Homo sapiens: one gene and its partner. The protein of the gene in region 1 interacts with the protein of each later gene in a biochemical or structural test. Each region holds a gene or a part of one and is shown on either strand. Other genes may lie near its edges.

Evidence for each region.
Region 2: the proteins of NAP1L1 (region 1) and ERCC6 form a complex in vitro, tested with the Homo sapiens proteins (one large-scale study listed by BioGRID).

The regions. Positions count from the first base shown.
Region 1 is NC_000012.12:76,078,031-76,081,858, reverse strand, and holds part of NAP1L1 (nucleosome assembly protein 1-like 1), read left to right. Parts: intron 1-3,828. UniProt on the Homo sapiens protein: Histone chaperone that plays a role in the nuclear import of H2A-H2B and nucleosome assembly.
Region 2 is NC_000010.11:49,465,846-49,469,673, reverse strand, and holds part of ERCC6 (DNA excision repair protein ERCC-6), read left to right. Parts: intron 1-3,828. UniProt on the Homo sapiens protein: Involved in repair of DNA damage following UV irradiation, acting either in the absence of ERCC6 or synergistically with ERCC6. Involved in the regulation of gene expression.

The DNA of each region.
Region 1 (3,828 bases):
GATTTTAAGTTCCATTTCAAACTAGTTTCATCTAAATAAGTTTTTGGGCAGAATAGGGGTTAGAAGGAGAGAGTTGTTACTTTACACCTATCCATATGTAAGTCGTTTAGCACAATGACTACAGAACATTAGAGTACATTAGTGGGCTTGCCATAGAAAATGGCTTCTATACCTTTGGTTACCAACTCTGCCTTTTACTTCCTGCATATTTGTATATATTTTTACTTATTCAGAAGTTTTGTACATTTTAATTTTTATTGGGAAACAGGGTTATATATATTTTTTCCTTGTGGAGACAGGCTCTTGCTGTGTTGCCCTGGCTGGTCTTAAATGCCTCACCTCAAGCGATTTTGCCTTGGCCTCCCAAAGTGCTGAGTGTATGGGTGTGAGCCACCACACCTGTCTAGAGTTATAATTTCAGTCTTGGAATTATTTTCTAAAGAGGGTACAGAAGAGCATAACAGGGATAAATAATGTAATAGGCAACACTGATTGATTATTCAGGCATTGTTTTAAATTCTGTGTGTATTATTAGCTCATTTAATTTACTTAGAGACAGGTAGCATCAACATTTTAACAAGGAAAAAAAATAGGTGTGGAGTGGTTAGATAACCCGTCCGTGGTTACGTACGTGAGCAGTGATAACTTATGATGAGATAATTTTTATCCTGGTTTTGAAAGAATGTTGACTTACACTGTTCTGCTATAAATCAGCATGAATATTAGTTCATTTTCTGTTGCTTAGAATACCTGAAACTGAGTAATTTATTTAAAAAAAAAGAATTTATTTCTTGCAGTTATAGAGGCTGAGAAATCCAAGATCGAGGGGACCCATGTGGTGAGAACCTTACTTGTGGAGACTCTGAAGGTTCCCAAGGCAGTACAGGGTATCACATGGGGAGGGGGCTGAGTGTGCTAACTGGGTAGCTTGGCTCTCCAGCTCCCCTGGTGGGAAACTGGGTAATTTATAAAGAAATACATTAATCCATGAATGGATTAATTCGTTTGTGAGGGTGGAGCCCTCATGATCCAATCACTTCTTAAAGACCCCCATCTCTCAGTGCTGCCACATAGGGGATTAAATTTCAACTTGAGTTTTAGAGGGGACAAATACTCAAACCATAGCAGCATGAAATTCAAAAGCACTCCACCTTGTATCCCACTGTGCTCTAGGGAAAAGCTGTATAGCAGTTATGGTCATGAAGTCTTCTTCCAGCATAGAATTTGTTTACATACACAGTCATGCATGGTTAATGATGGGGATGTGTTCTGGGGGAAATGCATCATTAAGCCATTTCATCCTTTTGTGAATGTCATAGAATGTATTTACACAAACCTAGATGGTACGGCCTAGTACATACCTGGGTTATATGGTATAGCCTGTTTGTTGTTCCTAGGCTACAAACCTGTATAGCATGTTGCTATGTTGAATACTGTAGGCAGTTTTAACTTTTTTAAAAATAAGTTGGAGTGTACTCTAACCACAAAAAGCATAGTATAGTAAATACATAAACCAATAAATCATTTATTGTCCTTATCAAGTATTATGTACTGTAAATAATTGTAAGTGCCATACTTTTATATGACTCTGCAGTAGGTTTGTTTATACCAGCATCACCACAAACATGAATAATGAATTGAGCTGTGACATTACTAGGCAATAGGAATGTTTCAGCTCCATTATAATCTTGTGGGATCACTGTTGTATATGCAGTCCTGTGTTGACTGAAACGTTATGTGACTGCAGTTGGGTAATGGTTTCTTAGCCTTATGTCAGCTCTATGTATCCAATTAGTTCAGTCAGTTGCCTCCCCTCTTCAGTGGAAGATTTTGTTTTTAGTTCAGTTTAGGAAGGAAGATTTCCTTTCAGGAGGCCAGGTGTGGTGGCTCACACCTGTAATCAATCACAGCACTTTGTGAGGCCAAGGCGGGAGCCCAGAATTTCCAGACCAGTCTAGGCGACATAGTGAGACACCCTGTCTTTACAAAAAAAATTAAAACAATATAGCTGAGTGTGGTGGAGAATGCATACCTGTAGTCCCAGCTACTCAGGAGGCTGAGGTGAGAGGATCACTTGAGCCTGTGAGGTCAAGGCTGCAGTGAGCTGTGATCACGCCACTGCACTATAGCCTGGGCAATAGAGCAAAGCCTTGTCTCCAAAAAAAAAAAAAAAATGCCTTCAAGCATGTTTTTAGGGTCAGTTATGTCTTTTGAGATCTTATACACACCATATATGTATGAACCTTTTATTATAAAGTGACCTTTTTATCTTAATGTTTTTCCTTGAAGTCTATTTTTTCCTGACATTAATACGTGATACCAACTCTGATTAGTGTTTTATTCTGAAACTGTCTTTTACATTACAGATTTTTTTTTAAGGAGGTATGTTGAAGTGCAGTGGCACGATCATAGCTCACTGTAACCTCAAACTCCTGGGTTCAAGTGATCTTCCTGCCTCAGTCTCCCGAGTAGCTAGGACTACAGCAGGCATGTTAATTTTTTGTAGAGATGATCTGTGTTGCCCAGGCTGGCCTTGAACTCCTGGCCTCAAGCGATCCTCCTGCCCCAGCCTTCCAAAGTGCTGAGACTATAGACGTGAGCTACCGCACATGGCCTCACCTTCATTCTTAAAAGATGTTTTGGTTGGGGATAGTATTTTAAGAGCCTTAGTTATTTTCAACATATTGAGGATTCTGTTGTCTTTTAGTGTCTTATTGAAGAGAAGACAGCTGTCAGTCTTTTTGTGCCTTTGAAGTTAATCTACCTTTTTTGTGTGTGCTTTTGAGATGAATTTGTTTTTGCTATCTTGCCTTTTTACTGATGTATCCGGAGCTGGATAAATATATGTGTGTGTGTGTGTGTGTATATATATATATGGATTCTTTATTTTATGGTTTTGATTTGTAGGGCTACTTGAATCTGTGGATTGGTGTCTTTCATCACTTAAGGAAATGGAAAATTATTGCGTATTAACTTCTTCAAATATTCTGTCCTCCTGCTCCCAGAACTTGTATGAAGTCTTTATTAGGCTTCATTGGATCTTAACATGTCTTTTCATTTCAGTATTTTCAGTCCTTTAGATTCTGTGGCTCTGCCATATTTTCAAAGTTTTCTTCTAGGCTTCATTTCAGCTCACTTAATTCTCTCTTCAGCTGTGTATCTTACTCTTAAGCCAGCCCATTTAGTTTGATTCATTAGTTTTATTTCTAGAAGTTCTAGTTTTCCAAATTTTGTTATATCACCTTTAATAGATGACTTCCTTGCAGACAGTGTGTTTTCAAACTTAGATCAAAGACAACCAGGCTTACTATGTCTGTAGGTATGTATTTGTTTATAGTCTGACAATTTTTAAGTCTTTGTGTAGGATTGATTTCTGTTATATTTTCTGTTTTTCCTGTTGGCTGTGAAAATTACTTGTATGAATTTTTTAAGGTCTAGAAGGAAGCTTTCATTTAATTTTGATATACAGGTGTCTGAATATACCAGGGACAGATCATTTTAAGTACATAGCTTGGGGTTTGGAGGGCAATACAGATGAGGTAAATTTGGGCTGTTTGTCCAGGAGAATGAATTTATTCTTGAGGATATAGCATTTTGGGGTTCCTGCTTAATTTGGGAGGGTTACCATAAAGATAGCCACCGTGGACAGGCCCAGAATTTTAACTTTGGTTAAAACCAAAGTTCACGTTGCTGATAATTGGCAGTTGACCTCAGTGCAAAAGTGCCTTCCTTCTGCTCCTGTTTTGCCCTCAGTTTTGGGCTGGTGATTCCTTACTATCTTGTTAGCATTTCAGTGCTTTTAAGATTTTTAACAAAATGTTTTTGTTA
Region 2 (3,828 bases), on another chromosome or scaffold:
AGTCACTGTGTTCACAATGTGATGGCCTTGAGTTACCAAAGATTGCTGCTTATGGTACTCAGTTTAAGAAGGCAGGTTTATGTGTAGCATTTCAGAAAGACTTTTATTTAGCATGGTTAATTTTTTTGTTAATTTCATATTTTGAAGTAATTTCAAACTTAAATCAGTTGGGTCTCAAAAAAAAATCAGTTGGAATAATACGAAGAACTCTCCTATATCCTTTATCTAAGTTATTAACATTTTTCAGCTTTTGCTTTATCATTCACACACACACCCATCTATGCATACATTTTTTTTTTGGTAGGAATGCCACAGAGGTGATACCGTATCTTACTCAGTGCATCTATCAGGAGACACATGCTGGTTTGACCTATTACAAGTTGATTTTTAAGATCACTTGGTTAAGGTGGAGTCTGCCAGGTTTCTCAATGCTAAGGTTAATATTTTTACCTTTGTAATTAATTTGTGCTTTCAAGGAATATGCTTTGAGACTGTGTAAATATCCTGTTTCTCATCAAACTTTTATCCACTAGTTTTAATATCTATTGATGATTCTTTCCTCAGTCAGTTATTACTACAATGGTTGCCAAATGGTGATTAACATTCTATTGTAAGGAAGGTTTTCCTTCTCTCTTATTTATTTATTAATTTATTTTTAGATCAGTGTGGACTAATGGATTCTTTTTTTTTCCATGACTGTAATCCATTAGTAGGGGTATTATGATGCTCGTATTGTCTTAGATTTGCCTCATGGGTGGGAGCTCCTTCAAGCTGGCTCCTTTGTCCCTCTGGTATGTCCCCACCATTCTTTGAGCACCTCCTTTCTTCTTGGCATACTAATATATGCTGAGCTCAATTTGTATTCTGTGCCAGCCCTGGAATCAGCCATTTCTTCAAGGAACCCTGGAGAATGGTATTTAGGAACTAGGATCCGGGTTCTCAGAGTGTTCATTGCTGCTATTATGTCATTGCTTTCGTAGCCAATAGTATCAGGAAATAGATGTATGTATGTGTGTGTATGTGTTTGTTGTGTACATACATATACACATACATACGTGCATATATATGCACAACAAATTGCACAGATACACCTGTCTCTATGTCTGTGAAAACCATGAATTTGGCTTCCAGCAAAGGCAGATTAACATTTACCCTTCCATGTGAAACAATGAAAACAATGACAAAACATATGAAGCAATGGTTTTCAGACACCAAAGGGCAGTGATCTCTTGAGAGATGGGAAACAAATGAACTGAGCTCTCCAGTTGCCCTGCCCTACTGCCTTGAGAGAATTTTCGTGCTGTAACAGAAAGAGGGAGAACCCAGATGGGAGTCCAGGCAGACCCTCTGTTGAAAAGGCAGAGCTGAGCATCAGGGGAGGCCAGGGTGGCTGGCATTCACATGCAAGAGACGATAGCGGAGACAGCTCTGCACAGGGAGAGAACCCCACAGGTCTGCAGAGTCTCCACTGGCACTCAGCTGAATACTGACCAGCACATTGTGCAAGAAAACTACTTAAGGTCAGTGAAAAGGCCTTTCCTCTTTAACTTTTCGAATTAGAGGAAACATGTCTGGTGCTCACCCATGGCCAGGGATAGTGCCTGTTCCCACCAGCTAAGACTGGAAAAATATTTCATGGGGCATTGGGTATGATACAGAGTAGGGGGTCTTGCCTCTGTAGTAGGGAATGATCAGCCTTAGAGTGAGCACTGCTTCAGCCCTACCTGAGTGTTTACAGGAATATACAAATACCCAACATCCAACAAGATGAAATTCACAATGTCTGGAACCCAATAAAAAATTACTGGCTGGGTGTGGTGGCTCAGCCTGTAATCCCAGTGCTTTGAGAGGCTGAGGTGGGTTGATTGCTTGAGCCTAGGAGTTCAAAACCAGCCTGGGCAACATAGTGAGATCCTATCTCTACAAAAAATAAAAAAAAAAATAGCCGGGTGTGGTAGCATACACCTGTGGTCCCAGCTACTTGCGAGGCTGAGCTGGGAGGATTGCTCGAGCCTGGGAGGTTGAGGCTGTGGTGAGCTGTGATCATGCCACTGCACTCCAGCCTGGGCAGCAGAGCGAGACCCCATGTCAAAAAATAATAAAATGTATAACCCAATTTTTTAAATGGACAAATAATTTGAACAGACTTCACCAAGAAAGATATGTAGATGGCAAATAAATATATGAAACTTGTTAATATTATTAGTTATTAGGGAAATGCCAATTAGAACCATAACGAGATACCACTATACACCCTCTAGAATGGCTAAAATGAAAGAAGACTGACCATACTAAGTGTTGGTAAAGATGTGAAGCAGTTGGGTCTCATACACGCCTGGTGGGAATGTAAAATGGCACAATCACTTTGGAAAACAGTTTGGCAGTTGCATGCGCTTTCCTTGTGATATAGCTTTTTCAGTCCTGGGTGTGTATTTGCCCAAGAGAAATGGAAAAATATGTCCATACGAAGGCTTGTACATGAATATTCGTAGCAGCTTTATTAGTAATAGCCAAAAATGTAGAAATCAAATGTCTACCAACAAGTAAATAGTTAAACTAACCATGGCATATCCATATGATCAAATACTAGTCGACAGGTGGGGCTTGGCTCACGCCTGTAATCCCAGCACTTTGGGAGGCCGAGGTGGGTGAATCACCTGAGGTCAGGAGTTCGAGACCAACCTGGACAACATGGTGAAACTCCATCTCTACAAAAATACAAAAATTAGGCATGATGGTGGGTGTCTGGAATCCCAGCTACTTGGGAAGCTGAGCGGGAGAATCGCTTGAACCTGGGAAGTGGAGGTTGCAGTGAGCCGAGATCACACCATTGTACTCCTGCCTGTGCGACAGAGCAAGACTCCGTCTCAAAAAATATATATACTAATCAACAATAAAAGGAAGTAGAGTATTGATACATGCTACAGCATGGATGACTTTCGGACTAGTAAGATTAGTACATACTCTGATGCCGTTTGCATAAAATTCTAGAAAACACACAGTCATGACAGAAATTGGATTGGTTGTCTGGGCATGGGGTATTTGACGGTGGGATTACAAAGGGACATGAGTTTTGCAGGTGACGGCTATGTTCATTGTCTTGATTGTAGTGATAGTTTCATGGTATGTACATAATGTCACAACTTACCAAATACTGTACTTTAGCAGTTATTGCATATCAGTTACACTCTAATAAGCTCCAAAAAGCAAAATAAGATGAGGGAATACTGTTGTCTCCAATTTCATTTCAGCACCCTAGGGCCCTTTCCATGTTTGTAGCTTCCTTCTTCAAGACCTTCATTCACAACGTACTGAGTTACTTGTCAATCCTAGGATACATGGTAGCTTTTTACAATTTCTGACCTGAACTATGGCAAGAAACAGTTATACTAACTAGAATTCAATATTTGTTTTTATTTATACTAACTAAAGTTCAATATTTGTTTTTATTTCTTTTTGTCTTTAGTCTAAGTTTTTGGTCAAAACACTACTTGAGTCAAAAATAACTTAGTTCTTTTTTCTCACCCTTCATCATATTTTCAGTGTGTGCTATCAGTTTAAAATACAGTTAGGTTAATTTATTTGTTTGTATTCCACTTTAGGGTTTCCTCCCATCCTTGTTGACTCTATGTTATCTTCTGAGTAGTAACACATTAACATAGTAACAAAAGACAAAATATGCAAAAAGGAATACCAGAGTAGTGTCATCCCCCACCCTGTCCCCACCCCTTCCTTACCTTACCAGTCTCATGAGTTTCTGGCATTTCCTTCATGTGTTTCTGTGTTAGTCTGTTTTCACACTGCTGATAAAGACATACCAGAGACTGG